Regions from separate parts of the Homo sapiens genome. Here region 2 is linked to region 1. The links come from fine-mapping of genetic effects on gene expression. A gene starts in region 1. The other region holds a variant in brackets. All regions are shown on one strand. Distances are between the middles of the regions. Region 1 holds the start of SFTA3 (surfactant associated 3). Region 2 overlaps SFTA3 (surfactant associated 3).

What was found. PIP is the estimated chance that this variant, and not a neighbour inherited with it, causes the effect.
Region 2: its variant is fine-mapped to the expression of SFTA3 in thyroid (GTEx, PIP above 0.99).

Annotation. Positions count from the first base shown.
Region 1 is chr14:36,514,247-36,523,099 of GRCh38, reverse strand. SFTA3 (surfactant associated 3) reads left to right here and starts at 3,544. Exons shown (of 5, transcript NR_161365.1): 1 at 3,544-3,632. NKX2-1 (NK2 homeobox 1) reads left to right here and starts at 2,868. Exons shown (of 3, transcript NM_001079668.3): 1 at 2,868-3,047; 2 at 3,730-4,115; 3 at 5,080-6,703. The coding sequence starts at 2,971. The coding sequence ends at 5,822. NKX2-1-AS1 (NKX2-1 antisense RNA 1) reads right to left here and starts at 3,822. Exons shown (of 2, transcript NR_103710.1): 1 at 3,421-3,822; 2 at 84-1,456. RefSeq lists enhancers at 453-1,452, 1,453-2,452, 2,453-3,452, 4,611-5,609, 7,832-8,459.
Region 2 is chr14:36,473,037-36,481,889 of GRCh38, reverse strand. It overlaps SFTA3 (surfactant associated 3), which reads left to right. Exons shown (of 5, transcript NR_161365.1): 3 at 4,012-4,174; 4 at 4,787-4,919; 5 at 8,009-8,602. Among named protein-coding and RNA genes, the nearest start is that of NKX2-1-AS1, 42 kb to the left of the region's middle. The variant G/A (reference allele first, on the strand shown) is at 4,813.

The DNA.
Region 1 (8,853 bases):
GCCCTGCCCTGACCGCTCCCCACTGTGCCCACTCCACCCGGGAGCAAGCTAGTTGCGGGATAAAGGAATACGCGCAGACTTCGCAAAGTGCAATCGGGGTTCTTCGTATTCATGGAAAAAAAAATCACTGGTTTAGCCCGGGTCTGCCCTATTTAGGATGAGTCCAGGAGGCGGCGGAAAGAAAGGACGCTCTTCGGTCAGAGGGAGGTGTTTCGGGCCATGGGAGGGACTCTGGAGGCCTTTGCTTGGATAAGCTTGGAGATACAGATGTCCTTCTCTTCCCTACAAGGTGCGTTAGTCTCCGGGCTTATTTTCGGCAGTGCAGTGGTACTGGGGAAGAAGGCAGAGCCGCGTGTTGAGAAGGGGCTAGGGTAGTAGAGGCGCTGGAGCCTGGGCGGCAGGGCGCTGCAAAGGCCCAGGCGAGGTGGATAGAGAGCTTGCTGGTGCGCGCGAGAAGCACGCCTGCAGGCAGAGGTTGAAGCGCCGTCCCAGTTGTGTCCCAGAGTGAAGCGGGAGTCTTTGCCCGCCCCAGCCACTTCGAGCTCCACTCCAGTTCAGCTCCCAGAGTCGCCACTTGCTGCGCGGTTGTTGGGGAGGGGGTTCCTGGTCCAGAACGAGACGTGGGGGGCTGGGGGTTTCCTCGAGAACTGCAGGCCTGGTTGCCCCCGGACTGTCAGAGCCGGAGGCCGGGGAGCTGCCAGCCACGTGCGCCTGTGGCCTGCTGAGAGGTTGAAAAGCTGCCAAGGGACGAAGGCCGAGAAGACAGGACCTAGGGGCTGTGGAAGATTCACCCAACTCTTCCTTTTACTCAGGTCTTGGGACCTAAGAGGGGGTGGGGATAGTCATGATAATAACTACCGCAATCTCCAGTGCTGGCACTGAGCTGAAAAACATTCAAAGCTTTCAAAGCATTTTGATGTGCTTCATCTTACTTGAATCTCACAAAAACCTTGTGAAGATTGATCTCCATTTCTAAATGGCGTTGAGACTGGAAGAGATGTACAACATTCTACACTTGGTGTTCCTTAAACTTACAAACAACTATGAAATAATGGCGAGTGAGAGAAAGAAGCTGGGTGACTGGGAAACCCACCCCGCCTTCGCAATTAGACCCCATTCGGGACTCAGGCCCGGCCAGGTCGCGCCTGCAGACAAGGTCTGTATTCAGCGTTGCCAGTTCTCCTCTGTGGTTCGCTTAAGCCCGGCGTCGCCTCCCCTCCTTGCTTAGCCACCACAGTGATCAATGCTCAGTTCGTCGGGGCCTGAGAGCGCCCCCCAGAGAAGCCCCTGGGAAGGAAGGGCAAGGAGCCGGGCTTCGCTCTGGTCTTTCGCAACACCAGCGGCGAGCGCGTCTCCCTGCGCAAACGTAGGGTGGCCTCCCCAGCTCTGCCGTGGGGACCGCACAAAAACGCGGGCGCAGGTGGGAGGGCGGAGGGTGTCCTGAGCTTTCTTTACCCTGGTAAAGAAGGTAGGCGGTGAGAAAAGCGAATGTTATTATAGAAGTTGGCTTTGTATTGAGGGAGTAAGAGCTCTCTTCAAGGAGAGGGCTGAAATCTTTAAAAATAAATAAAACTTTCTCTACTGTAATTGCTATTAATAAAAAAAGGGAGCCCGGATGAATTAAGTAGCTCAAAACTGCCTGTTCGTCATGATCAGGAGCTCCTTCTCTACAAGGAGGGGAAAGAAAATGTGAAAACAAAAACTAAATTCAAGAAGCTCCTTGACCAGCGCGGGTGTCTTGGAGGCACCTGCCGGGGCCGGCCGGGGAGCGCTCCGCCCTCCCAGCCCCTGGCGCGCAGAGGAGACTAAAACAGCTAAGGAGAAAGCAAAACAAAAACAATGATAAAAACGTTTAAAATCCAAGGACAAAAACCGGAGTCGGTCTCAAAATCCGCGCCGTTCAGTGCTCCACTCGGTAGTCGACTCGGCTGCAGGCCCCGGCCTGGCCGGAGCAACGCGGGGGACACCCCCGATTCCGCTGGGGAGCGCAGCCCACAGCTCCCCCTCGCCAGGCGCCCAAGGACCCTCAAGGCGCGGGGCCCACACTTGAAGCCTGGGAACGCGCAGACAGGAAACCCTCTTCCTCCTAAGCAGTTTCTTGCTCGTCGGATGAGAGGCGCCCAATTGAAGCAGAATGATCCTCATCTACTAATATCCAGCGTGGCCACAAAGCGACTGGCCATTTACGCCACCACTTTAAACAAAGATATTTGGTTATTCCCGGGAAGCAAGAGCACTTTTGCATGGCTGAGCTGCGGGCGGAGGCGAGCCTCGGCCCAGCCTCCCGCCCGCTGAGCTGCCCGCACCTCGGCATTCGCCCCCTCCTGGCCAGCGCTCCAGCCGCCGGGGTTCAGGCTCAGTTCCGCCCGGCAACAGACAGACGGGCACTCACGCCGCTCCCTGCTCGCGCGCTCCCTGAAGCATCAGAGGGGAAAACAGCGTGGCTCTGGGCTCGGGTGCTGGGGCTGTGATGTCCTCGGAAAGTCAGCTCCAGCCCCAGATCCCCGCGTGTCTGGGAGATGGGCGAGGGTCAGGGACACCAGGTTTGTTCGAGGTGGGGCAACTTCAGTGACGGACCCTCCCGTGAGACCCCTTCCCATCCTCCCAGCTCTGGGGGCCAGTGCTGTGTTTGCTCGGCCGGGGGTGGGGGGGGGGGGGGAAGACCTTGGGGGAGGCGTGTTAGCGGGGGTGGCCCACTGAAAAACCCCTGAGCTGCGGGGGCGGGTTGTGGCTCGGGGATCCGGGACAGCCTCCGGGAGGCAGTCGATCCCCTACTCAGCGCCCCCTCCGCCCGCTCGGATTCTCTCCGGTAGGGGGAAAGGGGGCGGGGAGCAGAGGTGTCCCTCTGACGGCGGCAGAAGAGAGGCAGACAGACTGACAGACACGTAGACCAACAGTGCGGCCCCAGGGTTCGTCCCCAGACTCGCTCGCTCATTTGTTGGCGACTGGGGCTCAGCGCAGCGAAGCCCGATGTGGTCCGGAGGCAGTGGGAAGGCGCGGGGCTGGGAGGCCGCGGCGGGAGGGAGGAGCAGCCCCGGCAGGCTCAGGTGAAACCCCCACCCTGTCCCTCAGCCCCCTCCTCCTAAAGACCTGTCCGTGCCCGGGGAACCCCGACCGAATTGGAAAGTGGTTCCACTTTGTAACTCCGCAAGTTGGTTGCAAAGCAGCATTCACCTTCCTTCCTCTCAACCATCTCTCCTCCTCTGTTACTCCCCCACCCCACCTCCTGCCCTCCCCGCTCTCGGTTCCCTCCTCCTTCCCCTCCCCTCCACCTCCTCCCCGCGCTCCGCTGGTACCCCACAAAAAATGGGGGTGGGGGTGTCCAAGGGAGGGGGGAAATGCTTTGGGTCTCGTCTCTGCCTCTCTCTCTCTCTCTTTGAGACCTAAAAATCCTGACAAGTGAAACTTAAAGGTGTTTACCTTGTCATCAGCATGTAAGCTAATTATCTCGGGCAAGATGTAGGCTTCTATTGTCTTGTTGCTTTAGCGCTTACGCCCCGCCTCTGGTGGCTGCCTAAAACCTGGCGCCGGGCTAAAACAAACGCGAGGCAGCCCCCGAGCCTCCACTCAAGCCAATTAAGGAGGACTCGGTCCACTCCGTTACGTGTACATCCAACAAGATCGGCGTTAAGGTAACACCAGAATATTTGGCAAAGGGAGAAAAAAAAAGCAGCGAGGCTTCGCCTTCCCCCTCTCCCTTTTTTTTCCTCCTCTTCCTTCCTCCTCCAGCCGCCGCCGAATCATGTCGATGAGTCCAAAGCACACGACTCCGTTCTCAGTGTCTGACATCTTGAGTCCCCTGGAGGAAAGCTACAAGAAAGTGGGCATGGAGGGCGGCGGCCTCGGGGCTCCGCTGGCGGCGTACAGGCAGGGCCAGGCGGCACCGCCAACAGCGGCCATGCAGCAGCACGCCGTGGGGCACCACGGCGCCGTCACCGCCGCCTACCACATGACGGCGGCGGGGGTGCCCCAGCTCTCGCACTCCGCCGTGGGGGGCTACTGCAACGGCAACCTGGGCAACATGAGCGAGCTGCCGCCGTACCAGGACACCATGAGGAACAGCGCCTCTGGCCCCGGATGGTACGGCGCCAACCCAGACCCGCGCTTCCCCGCCAGTAAGTGAGGCCGCCCCACTGCGGGGCCGCGGGCTGAGCTCAGGAGGTGCGGCGAGAGCCGTCCAGAAGGCGCGGCGCCGGCAGGCTGCGCGCTGGGCATCAGGGAGGGCGGCCCGGCAGCGGCGCCAGGGACTTGGGTGCGGGAGCTGGGGATGCTTCCCCCTGCTCGGCTGGGGGTCCAAGAACAGGCACTTGGTAGCGCTGGGGTCCTGCGGTCAGATGCGGGTACTCGGCGTCTCCTAGGCGCGGTGGACTGGCAGCTCTGCTCGGCGCAGAAGACCTCGGGGAGCCAAGGGAAGCGACCCCGAGCTCAAGGAGCAGGGGCGAGCAGAGCGCGGAGAGGCTAGACCGGGCCAGGAGGGAGGCTGCCCTGTTGGGAGGCACTCGAGCGCCCGGCCCGGCCCTCTCTCCAGCGGAGTCTGGGCAGGTGGGAGGACTCGCAGTTCCAGAGGGGACTCTAAGGGTCCGAGCAGGTGCCCTCACTGGGGCCTGACAGGAGAGAAGCCAAGAGGCAAAGCGTCTGGGGGCTCCAGCTTTTGGAAGTCAACACCCCCTCTCCTAACCTCTCCAAACTGGGGTCTACCGTAGGACCCCAGCTCCCGGCCTGAGCCCAGTTCGCCGCCTGTGGCCAGCTAATCCTAATGCTCTGACCCGGGCTGGGCACGAAAGGAGCAGAAGCGGCCTTTCCCCCACTGCGTCTTTTGGTTCGAAAGAGGGAACTGAGACTGAGGGAGGGCAGCCAGGGTTGGGGCTGTGAGCGCTCCAGTACAGCCCCCTCGACGGTACGGCCTGGGGCAGGCGCTGGCAGTTCCCCGCGGATGGGCCTCTTGGGCCCCAGCGCTAGGCTGCCTGGGTCAGGAGGGCGCCGTCGGTTGGGGCGGGCCGGGCGGGCCAATGGCGCGGAAAACAGGGGTGGCCTGGCTCGGCCTGGCCCCGGCCGACGCTGTGCGTTTGTCGCTTACAGTCTCCCGCTTCATGGGCCCGGCGAGCGGCATGAACATGAGCGGCATGGGCGGCCTGGGCTCGCTGGGGGACGTGAGCAAGAACATGGCCCCGCTGCCAAGCGCGCCGCGCAGGAAGCGCCGGGTGCTCTTCTCGCAGGCGCAGGTGTACGAGCTGGAGCGACGCTTCAAGCAACAGAAGTACCTGTCGGCGCCGGAGCGCGAGCACCTGGCCAGCATGATCCACCTGACGCCCACGCAGGTCAAGATCTGGTTCCAGAACCACCGCTACAAAATGAAGCGCCAGGCCAAGGACAAGGCGGCGCAGCAGCAACTGCAGCAGGACAGCGGCGGCGGCGGGGGCGGCGGGGGCACCGGGTGCCCGCAGCAGCAACAGGCTCAGCAGCAGTCGCCGCGACGCGTGGCGGTGCCGGTCCTGGTGAAAGACGGCAAACCGTGCCAGGCGGGTGCCCCCGCGCCGGGCGCCGCCAGCCTACAAGGCCACGCGCAGCAGCAGGCGCAGCACCAGGCGCAGGCCGCGCAGGCGGCGGCAGCGGCCATCTCCGTGGGCAGCGGTGGCGCCGGCCTTGGCGCACACCCGGGCCACCAGCCAGGCAGCGCAGGCCAGTCTCCGGACCTGGCGCACCACGCCGCCAGCCCCGCGGCGCTGCAGGGCCAGGTATCCAGCCTGTCCCACCTGAACTCCTCGGGCTCGGACTACGGCACCATGTCCTGCTCCACCTTGCTATACGGTCGGACCTGGTGAGAGGACGCCGGGCCGGCCCTAGCCCAGCGCTCTGCCTCACCGCTTCCCTCCTGCCCGCCACACAGACCACCATCCACCGCTGCTCCACGCGCTTCGACTTTTCTTAACAACCTGGCCGCGTTTAGACCAAGGAACAAAAAAACCACAAAGGCCAAACTGCTGGACGTCTTTCTTTTTTTCCCCCCCTAAAATTTGTGGGTTTTTTTTTTTAAAAAAAGAAAATGAAAAACAACCAAGCGCATCCAATCTCAAGGAATCTTTAAGCAGAGAAGGGCATAAAACAGCTTTGGGGTGTCTTTTTTTGGTGATTCAAATGGGTTTTCCACGCTAGGGCGGGGCACAGATTGGAGAGGGCTCTGTGCTGACATGGCTCTGGACTCTAAAGACCAAACTTCACTCTGGGCACACTCTGCCAGCAAAGAGGACTCGCTTGTAAATACCAGGATTTTTTTTTTTTTTTGAAGGGAGGACGGGAGCTGGGGAGAGGAAAGAGTCTTCAACATAACCCACTTGTCACTGACACAAAGGAAGTGCCCCCTCCCCGGCACCCTCTGGCCGCCTAGGCTCAGCGGCGACCGCCCTCCGCGAAAATAGTTTGTTTAATGTGAACTTGTAGCTGTAAAACGCTGTCAAAAGTTGGACTAAATGCCTAGTTTTTAGTAATCTGTACATTTTGTTGTAAAAAGAAAAACCACTCCCAGTCCCCAGCCCTTCACATTTTTTATGGGCATTGACAAATCTGTGTATATTATTTGGCAGTTTGGTATTTGCGGCGTCAGTCTTTTTCTGTTGTAACTTATGTAGATATTTGGCTTAAATATAGTTCCTAAGAAGCTTCTAATAAATTATACAAATTAAAAAGATTCTTTTTCTGATTAAAACCCTCCTTTTTGTTTTGTTTTGATTTGGCTTTAAATGGCTTTGAGGGGCGGGGGCTTGGGAGGATCTTGTCTTTGGTCTGATGAGATTCAAATTGTTTGGGTTTGAGCTCAAAGGATTCTGAACCGGTTAAGGAGGTAAGGAGGCCAGGCCCAGAGTCCTTGCCCCACAGGAAGAGGGAGTTTTGTTCTGCCTCAGAAATTGTGTGGAAACAAATCTTGAGCAGTCCTGAGACTGCAGTGGAGGACCGAAATACCAAACTACTTCCACCAAGAGGGAGAGGGAGAGAGGAAGAGAAAGAGACCAAATAATTCATTTTCTGAGTCAGACTTCTGTTGATAGGAGTCTCAGAACTGTCTACTGTGGTCTCACAAAGCTGAGCCAAAGTTTTAAAACAGTGAGAGAGGACACCCATTTTAAATCAGTCTGAGTGAGTTATGGTTTTCAGTGAATGGATCACCTCTGTAGATTTGAACATCAAACCTTTATTTCTAATCAGTGGCTGAGCTCCTTCACAGAATTCGATGGGAGGCTGTTTTCGAAAGTAAGGAAGTCATTCAGGGGTTTTGTTTCTGTCCTAAAACAGGGACCCCTCTAGGGGACCAGCAGCAGACGCCTTCAGCCCCTGCTGCTTTTGGCTCCTTTGGCCTCCAACGGGGTAACACTGGGTGACAGGCCTGAGGACATCCCAGGAAGGACTTTGGGAGCTGAGATTTCACTCTTTGTTGTACTGGGTTTTATCTCTGGGATCCTAAATTTTTGTAGTAATGAATCTTTCTCCTGTTTACAGTTCTTCACCTCCCAGCCACTACCTCCCACGCCAAGCAAAAAAAATAAATAAATAATAAATCATTTTTGATTCCTTTCTTCCAACCTCTAATTTCCTGGTTTCCTCAGCGCTCAGTGTTTGTGTTGGGAGACCCATTAGGGATGAGAGAGAGGGGAGAAGGAATGGTTTTGAACACAGAAAAATTGTAGTCCCCTGGATGGGCTGTAGCCCTTCCGGGTCACCCTTGCCAAATCTCCGGTCGAAAGGCAGCTGAGCCAGCTGCGGGCAGACGCCCCTCCCAGCACTTTCCTCTAGGCCTGGAAGTATTGGATTATGGGCAATTGATTCTTATTTGGCATGTACTCACTTCTCGCCCAGGTTTTCAACTTTCTTTTTCTTCCTCTCTTCCCCTCTCTCATTTCGTTATTCGTCTGCATCTCTTCCCAATCCCTCTCTCCCGCTCCCCCACCAAGAGCTTGTGAGGAAAGCAGACTGGCCGGAGTCCTCGCTCCGGGCCCAGCAGTCCTCTTTGTTAACTTCCTGGAGCCTCCTCTGGCGTGGTGCCTTAAGACTGTGGGCTAGGCCGGGCTTTCTCCCTCAGAAACCTGGGCCTCACTGCTGAGACACAGTTTCCAACAGCCAGAGGGACTCGAAGATTCCCAAGAGGATGGTTGGGTCTAGTGAGAGTGCTTGTTGGAAGGCGGGGAAGGGAGATTTTAACAGGTCTCACGTTTTGGAAAACAAACAAATTTGACCACTTGCGTTGGAATGGTCAGCTGTGGTTCCGGGACCGGGAGTGTAGGTGGCTAAGGCACCCAGCTCAGGCCGGCCGGGCAGGGGACATGGATACTGCAGCTGCTGTTTGGCTCTAGGTCCGGATCCCACGGAATTGGAGCTTCGCTTAACCTGCCCCAGCCTAGCCCAAGCCCGGGCGGGGACCTGGCTGGCGGTGCCCGGCTGTGGTTCTGGCGGCTGCCCCGCACCCCATTCTAGCTGGGAGGAAGCCTTTGGGAGTCACAATTTTAGTAGGCTGTGGCACCCTCGGCCTTATCATCTTTGCATTGGATGGAGTTTCCATCAAATACATTCTTCTCCTCGCCGTCTACAGTCGGCATAGTTTGAAGTCTGTTTACTTGTCCCGGGGAAAGGTGAACTCAATCGGGTTTGCGGACCGAGACAAACAGGACCTCAGCCTCTTTCTTGCCATCAATTACGCTGGCTCCATCCGCTCCCGCTCCCGGCTGGGGGAATTGTCGCAGCTGCGGGAAGAGACCTAGAACGCAATCTGAAGCGTTTCATTAGGGAAATAGGTGCGCGCTGGGAGCAGTGCAAGAGGGTTCCGCAACCTGGGGACACCCTCCGCCCCTACAGCACCGTCGGCTT
Region 2 (8,853 bases), 41 kb after region 1:
ATATTGATCTTGCAGGGTTGTTAGGAGGATTAAACAGTGTAATACTTGTTAAGAGCTCAGCACAGTGCCAGGCATATAGTAAGCACTTCTCAGTATTAACTCTAATATGACTGCTGCCTCAGTTCACCTCCCACACAGCTTAGTGTGCTGTGAGAGAGACTTAAGCTTAAATTGTGACTCACCATTAATGTCCTTGGACATATTACTTAATTTCTGGGTAATCTGAATTAACCCTAGAAATATGGAGCCCACTGTGTGCCAGGCATTGTGCCAGGTACTGAAGACCCATGGATAAACAGCTCGAACATGCCCCTGCCTACAAAGCGCACAAAGTCTGGGAGGCAGGGGAGGCAGTGAAATGAGCAATGTTAATATAGAGCTGCAAGGAAATCAGATGTGCAGATGCCCACTCATCCAACTTGGGTTGGACCAATAGTTAATAGACTCATCCAAAAAGTCAGTAAAGTGGAGAGTCATTAAAAATGTTATCTACGTGCCTTAAATGTTCTATTTCAATTTAAAGCAGATTAGAGGTTGTCAGGAGACAGGGGAGCAGCGGAATGAGGAGTGGTTACTTAAGAGTACAGGGCGTTTTTCTGGGGTGATGAACAAGTTTTGAAACTAGACAGAGTTGATAGTGGCACAGCATCATGAATGCACTAAATGCCATTGACTTGTATACTTTCAAATGGTTAATTGTATGTTATATGAATTTCACTTCAATAAAAATATAAATGTATATTATTTTGCCAGTTTTTTGATGCAAGGCTAAGGACTTTTCCTTAAATATATGTCCAATAATTGAAGTCCCAGGTCATCTTTCTGATTTAAACCACATCCATAATACATACACATGTTTTACTTCTATTTTAATTTCTTTAAATTGGAGCAAGAACTTAGATACTGACAAATCTATGTCAGAGTAGAATCTGTTTAGATTTTTAATGATTTCTTTCCATTTACAACTTTATATCCATTAAAGCAACTTTTAGAAGCTTACATTTATGTCTTTGTACATTATAAAAACAACTTTCTGTACTTATATTTTATTAATTTACATAAGATTTCCTCAAATAACATAGCTATAACAATAAGTAAAATTGTTATAAAAGAACTTAGACCAAACACATCTGACACTTGGTAGGCATACAATGCAATTCAACTGGTGAGAGCAGTAGTAAGATGAGTGTATAGACAGCAGCTTATCAGCTTTGAGCATTGGGGAGGGCAGGGCTGTAGTCAGTGTGCTTTACAAAGGAAATTATGTGTATCAAGTAAGCTGGTTAAATAGAGGCCACTTTAAGAGCATTTGTAATACAGTGGATGCCCAGAAGAAGGATACTTAACCCGGACTGGGGGTTGAGGAATGTCTTTCCAGGGGAGGTGACATAAGTTGAGATCTAAAGATGTGGAAGGACTTAGCCAGAAGAAAAGTCAGAAGATCTGTTTCAAGCACTGGAAACAACCAGAGAGAGAAGACAGCACCTACATTGGAGGAACAGCAAGAAGTATTGCTGGAGTGTGGCGTGCAGAAGGGGATGTGTTGAAGATGAAACTTGGAGAGAATCATGTTAACCATGTTAAGAAGTTTAGACTTTATTTTAGGGACAGTGGAAAGCCACGGAAAATTTTTAAGTAGAGGACTGACATAATCAGACTTGTGTTTTAGAAAGATCCCCTGGACTGCATTCCAGGGACCAGAATAGAGATGGTGGTAGGTCAGTGGAGGGGTGAAGGGTAGGAAGTCCAGTGATGGGGCTACCAAGGGAGTGGTGATATGAGCCTAGTACTATAGGGATGGAGAAGAGTACACCTCAGCTCTGAGAGGCAGGTAGGGGGTAGACTGTACAGGGGTTTAGTGGCCAAGTGTATTTGGGGGTGAAGGAAAGAAGGAAGACCAGCTTTGGTGATGGTGTCATTTGCTGAAATAGAGAACATGGAACAAGAGTAGCTTTGGAAAGAAGATGAGGTAAACTTAGAATATATTGAATTTGAGGTCTAATGAAGCTGTGGGATGTCCATTAAGTAGCTAGACATGTAACTCTAAAACTGGATCTCAGAGGTTAAAGTGGCCAAAAAGTCATATAATGTAAGGAATGGAAAGTATCCAATGAGTTTTATCAATGAGGAGGCTCCTGGTAACATTGGTGAAGGCAGCTTTAGAAAGCAGGTAGGCACATGAGCCCAATGGTAATGGGTTGAGGAGCCTGTGGGCATGAGGAAATGACCATGGGTACTTAATCATTTAGAGAATTTGGGCTTTGAAGGGGAGGACAGAGTAGGGTAATTTCCAGAGTAGCTGAAAGAGAAGTAGGGGATGAAGAACATATTTAAGCATTACTAAGATGAGTCAGTAGAAAGGTAAAGACTGCAAATGTAAGGGAGGAAATAATGAGGGGGTTAAATGCAGAAACCCACACTTAGTATAGAACGCTGTTGTGAGGGGATAAGTGAGTAAGCCCATGTAAAGCATTATGCTCTGCCAGGCACGGTGGCCCACGTCTGTAATCCCAACACTTTGGGAGGCCGAGGTGGGAGGATTGCTTGTGCTCAGGAGTTCAAGACCAGCCTGGGCAACATGGCAAAACCCTGTCTCTGCAAAAAATACTAAAATTAGCTGGCACGGTGGTTCACGCCTGTAGTCACAGCTACTTGGAAGGCTGAGACATGGGAATCACTTGAGCCCAGGAGGTTGAGGCTGCAGTGAGTGGTGACTGTGCCATTGTTAGTTCCTTTCATTCTCTATGCACTGCCCATCCCGTATTTTGTTTCATCTGTGCCCTGATATAATTACTTTGGCCTGTGCCTTTTTGGCTGCATACCTGTGGTTTTAGATAGTTACTCATGTAATTCTGGATGGGCATCTAGGTTTAGAAACTAGCAGACTGGTTTAATGGCTTGCCTATCCCCTCTTCCCATATATGGCCTCAGCAAATCCCATTTCTCAAATGTGTACTCACAGTTTCACTGTCATGTTTAGCTGCTCAGCAGAGGTGATGGGCTCCTAACCACACCTGAGTCATCTCATGTACTCATTCAGACTTCAAAGTATCTTAGCTTTCCATTCTTTCAACTAAGCCAAGATGGGAGGTTTCTGTTCATTGTGGAAAGAGGCTCTTTTCTCCTTGTAGCCTTACTCCAATGTTTATCTTTAATTATTAACAAGAATTATTAAATGCTTATTTCATTGCTTGCACAGAGTATTCAAAAAACTGAATTTTCCTTTCCTTAGTTCTGCTTGACACATTTCATTTCCTCATTGCTCACCTCTTAGCCATTTTTCTGCCATACAGGCCCTCCTCCTCATGCCCTCTTTTTTTTTTTTAGCATTTCGATACGTTTCTTTCCAATTATTTCTATACTTTGGAAAAATATAATTGAAAAAAATACTGCATGTTTTTTTTTCACTTGCTATTTTAACATAATTATTTTCCTGTTAAAATTATTAACTATAATTTTGATAACTGCTAGATATTTTATCTTACAGCTGTACTAAGCTTCATCTGGCCATTTTCCTATAATTAAGCATCTAGGTGCTCATGTGTTTACACATATATCTTTGTTCACATTGTTTATTATTTCCCTACCTAAGGTTTCTAGAAGTGGGATTACAATGGTAAGCATTTTAAGAGGAATACAAAAGCTAGTTTCACATTAAGAACTAGAAGTGACACTGCTGTTTTCTCACCAGCAGAATACTAACTTTTCAAGTCCCATTCATATTACGACAAAAAAGAATGGCTTCACAAATCTCATTCATTTTATAAGTAGCATCATCTTCATCTTAAAAATATAAGTCATCTAATTGTTTACAGTGTTACACACTGTTCAAAGAACCACATAGCTCTGATTCCTTCCTTCCAAAAATTTACATTCCAAGGAAGATATACTGATGTGAAGACTCACCAAATGCAGACAAGAACTATTAAAAGTACCCCATGGATGGACCTCCAAATGAGTTTAGGGTAATTGCGCTTAAAATATTAGGACCAAAGTACATTTATTTTATAGATGGAGGAGGGGAGGAGACGAGTGGGGACCAGCTTGACATCCAGTCTTCACCTGGACATATGGAAAGAACAAATGTGCGATCTGCTCGTTCCCTCTGAAGGTCTCTGTTACGTATTTCCTCCTCTCCTCCAGAGCATAATAACCAATGACTGCTCTCAGAAAGGTACTGTGACCACCACTTGCTTGGCTCTCCAACTTCCTCCCCCATTTCCCTCTTGACTCCTGTTTGCCATAACACCTTCTGTCCCCTAGCCTTGCCTCAGGTCCCCGACGAATCCTGCCCTTAATCTGTGGGGGTGGTAGGTGGCACTGGTTTGAAGAGCTTACTGGATCTCCCTCAGTGAGTCAGCCTGGAGTTGTGTTTGAAAACCACAGGCCCTGACTGTGGCTGTCAGACCTCCCAGACACCACCTGCTGCTGCCTATCATCATCTTCAGGTGCTGGGCTCCCCTGTGGGCCTCGTCTGCCCGCCCTCTGCTGCAGCTGTCCCATGGGCGCCCGCCCTCTCTGACACCACAAGAGAGCCCATCTAGATTCCAGGAAAAAACTCATCTTTATTTGCCTTCTTCCCACTGAAGGTAAAAGCAACATTAATAACCACAACAAATACTTAGTGAGTGCTTACTATTATTCATTTAATTGTTGGCCCTTCCATCCCTGGCCATGATGAGAGACATGCCATAGCTTACTCCTAAAGAGACCTGAGGACACACGTGCACAAACATATTGGGCATATCATCAATGGCATCAAAACTGATTTTCCCTGTCTACCCAGAACAGGCCTGAGGGAGAGGGAAAAGC[G/A]GATACCCACCTGTGTCGCTGTTTGCGTGCCAAGTCCAGGAACAGTCCATACAGCCCTGCTGCATCCCACGACGCTGTCACAAAGCAGGAGTTCATCCGAGGCCAAGGTGTTGTCATGAGAATATTCGTTAAAGTAGGGACGCTGACTTTGTTCTTGGGCAGATTCTCTTCCTGTGGAGTATCCAGCCTGTTTGCCTAGTTTTCCTGTTCTTCTGGGGTCTGATCTCTATCTGTTTTACTGCAGTCCAGTTACCAAAGTGGTATAAGTAAAATTGAAAGAATTCTAAATACCTTTTCCCCCCACGTTAGCTGCCTCACGTTAATGTGGTCTTACGGTCTGCAAATAAGTGTTTTGATGATTTGGCGACTGCAGTTACCCATACTAGCTCTCCTACCACTCACTACTGACAGTTAATTATTATCGAATATCCACCCACCCAGGGTGAGTTATAAGTTATACCAGGTGTTTTGGTTAATAATACTAATGCAATTAATTTACTGTTTACTCTCTCATCTTAAAGTAATCAGCTGGTAAAATAAGATTGATTGGGTTGGCCAGGTGCGGTGGCTCACGCCTGTAATCCCAGCACTTTGGGAGGCTGAGGTGGGCGGATCACGATATCAGGAGATCGAGACCATCCTGGCTAACACAGTGAAACCCTGTCTCTACTAAAAATCCAAAAAAAAAAAAAAAAAAAAAAAAAATTAGCCAGGCATGGTGGCGGGTGCCTGTAGTCCCAGCTACTCAGGAAGCTGAGGCAGGAGAATGGCATGAACCCGGGAGGTGGAGCTTGCAATGAGTCGAGATCGCGTCACTGCACTCTAGCCTGGGTAACAGACCAAGACTCTGTCTCAATAAAAAAAAAAAAAAAAAAAAAAAAAAAAAAAAAGATGGATTAAATTGGTACTTAAATTTTTTTTCTTTGCGAGGCTTTTCCCTTATTCATATTAAATTTAAACTGTTTTTCAAATTTATTTTACTATTCATATTTCCTGTGCATGAATCATATAATCATGTCCTTTGCCCATTTATCCATTGGGAATATTATTAGTGTTCACATGCATGTTTGAATAAATTTTCATATACTTGGTGCTGATAATTCTATTTTTCATGTGTGTTGATTTTTTTGGTTTTTATTGCTAGTTATTTCTATTACTTACAAGTTAAAAATTTATGTAATTATATTTGACCATTTTATTTCATTTCTAATTTCTCCATTTGCTCCAATTGTAAGAAAATTATCACTTTAAAGTGAGACTAAAAGCCCTATATATTCTTTTAGGTCTCTATTTCCCACCATCCCTGAGATTTTACTCTGACATTCTCTGGGCCTTACAGCCCAGGCCCTATAATTATTCAACACATTATTTTCACAAAGGTTAGATGCTTGCATTATGACTTCAATTGAGCAGTTACCTTAGAGTCTACTACCTACCTATTTATCCTGTATTTACAACTATTTCCCATGTTTTCTGTTGTCCAAGGGGCTTACAACATTCAAACCCAACTTCACTCATTCACTTACTCATTTACTTATTCACTCACTCACACTTTCATTTATTCATTCATTTACTATATTTGGCACACAAACTCTAGGGTGACCACCAGGGATCCTTGCTTCCTGGTGTGTTCACTTGTGTGTAGGCAGGACCTGGGACTTGCTTCTAACCAACAGAATACGGCAAAAGTGGTGGGATGTTCTTCCTGTTATTGTGTTACATAATATAAGACGCTGTCTTGCTAGTAGACTCACTCCAGACACTCTCCTTGTTGGCTTGATGAAGTAAGCAGTCATGTTGAGGAAGCTCTCATGGTGAGGAACCTTGGGCAAACTCTAGCCAGCAGTCAGAAAGAAGCCTGGATACTTGGTTTTAGAGCAGCATGGAAATGAATTCTGCCAATAACCTGAGTGAGCTTAAAAGGGGTTTCTTCCTCAGTCAAATCTCCAGATGAGAACACTGTCCAGGTGTCACCTTGATTACAGTGTTGTGAGACTCTAAGCAGAGGGCCCATCTAAGCCATGCCCTTACCTAGAAACTGTAAGATAATAAGTAGTTGTTGTTTAGAGCCACAAAGTATGCAGTAATTTGTTACGCAGAAATAGAAAACAAATACACGGTGCTGTGCTAATGATCACATGCATGATCTCTTAGTGCTTCAAGTAACGTCATAAGCCCGATACTAATATTATCTTCATTTACAGATGGAGAAACTGAGGCCCAGAAATTGATGTCCAGAATGCTTTGCTCTTAGCCACTGTACTATTATGGCATATTTTATCTTTATGTATTGCATCATTTCATGGATTCAAGTTTATCAATGTCCTTTGACAAGTTTAAAAATCTGTCTGCTAAAATCTATCCAATACATTAAGGAAAAGTCCCACTTGGCACATCTCCCACACCAGGTAGATGTTTTATAAGTTCAACTCCATAAAGACATTTCATGAAACTGTTTTATGCTGTACTTATACCATACATCTTGTAGAAATAATATTAGATTAATGAATAGGAAAGGTTTTTCTTAAAAGTGATGGACTGGCTGGGCGTGGTGGCTCACGCCTGTAATCCCAGCACTATGCGAGGCCAAGGGGGCCAGATCACGAAGTCAGGAGTTCGAGACTAGCCTGACCAACATGGTGGAACCCTGTCTCTACTAAAAATACAAAAAATTAGCTGGACATGGTGGTGCAGACCTGTAATCCCAGCTATTCAGGAGGCTGAGGCAGGAGAATCGCTTGAACCTGGCAGTCAGAGGTTGCAGTGAGCCAAGATGGTGCCACTGCTGTACTCCAGCCTGGATGACAGAGGAGAGAGAATCTGTTCTAAAAAAAAAAAAAAAAAAAAAAAAGTGATGGATTATGAACTATTTAGAAGAAAGAATAATCATGGCAGACATGAGTCCTAAATGCTTTGAATTTATCTGGAATTAGAACATTCAGAAAAACATTAGTTAAAATGTGCTGCCGCTTGGATTCTGTCTTTAACTTTGCTGTACGACTAAAACATTTAATTTGTGTCTTAATGTTAACATTTCTGATCAAGTACAGGGAAAAACATAATATAGAGAGATTTAGAAATACTTTTGTTTAATTGCTAAAGTCCTATTTGGTTCATTGTTCTGAGGAGTTAAGGTGGAATTGTGATCCCAGTACCATGTCTTCTAATAAAAGCCATTTTTGTTCTGCATTTTCAGATGTTAATTATTCATACTGCATGACTGAGGATTTTGGAGGCAGAGAGAGATTCATCTGCAATATTTGGAACACCAATGGAGGTCTACGTCAACACAGAATTTATACAGCAGCTGGTGCTAGTCAGAGCTAATGACAGAATTTCAGTTTAATAAAAAGACCCCCAACTGAGCACACCATCTTGAAAAAAGTATACTTATCAAACAGCTTTCAATCAGTTCAAGAGAGACACCTTAATTGGGGAGAGGAAGAATTGCAGAGTAGTTTGTAATCATGCCAATTCCAGATCAATAACTGCATGTCTGTTCTTTGGTAGAAATAGCTTTTGCTTTATATTAAGTAATCACATATATATTCTCTCTATTTGGATAAGGAAACCTTCGCTTTATTTGACAATGTATAATGATATACTCTTCTAATTCACCTCTGTGTCTTCACAATAAACATGAGTAAAATTTAGACAAGTGATGGTAAAGGTCAATATAATTATTTATTTTTAAAATAAATTTTGTATCTAACAGGAAAGCAGTTCTTATGAAATTTTTATATTTTCAAAAATTGTTTTGTTCAAATAAAATTTTATGAGTAAAGTTAAATGATGGTGGTTTAATTATAAGAAGAGTATACTGAACACTGATAATCTGATTTGTATGCAATTACTTCGGGGAAGGCTGTACAGAATAATCTAAAAAGAAACAAAAAGAAGGCAATTTACTTTTTGAAGGAAGGATTTGGAATACTAAAGAAGAATATGATTCAGTCATCAAGTCTTAGTTTCCTTTTGTTAAAAGGAGACAGTCATTCAAACTGGTGGCTTTCAACCTGTTCGTAGGCTACTAGTCTTAGT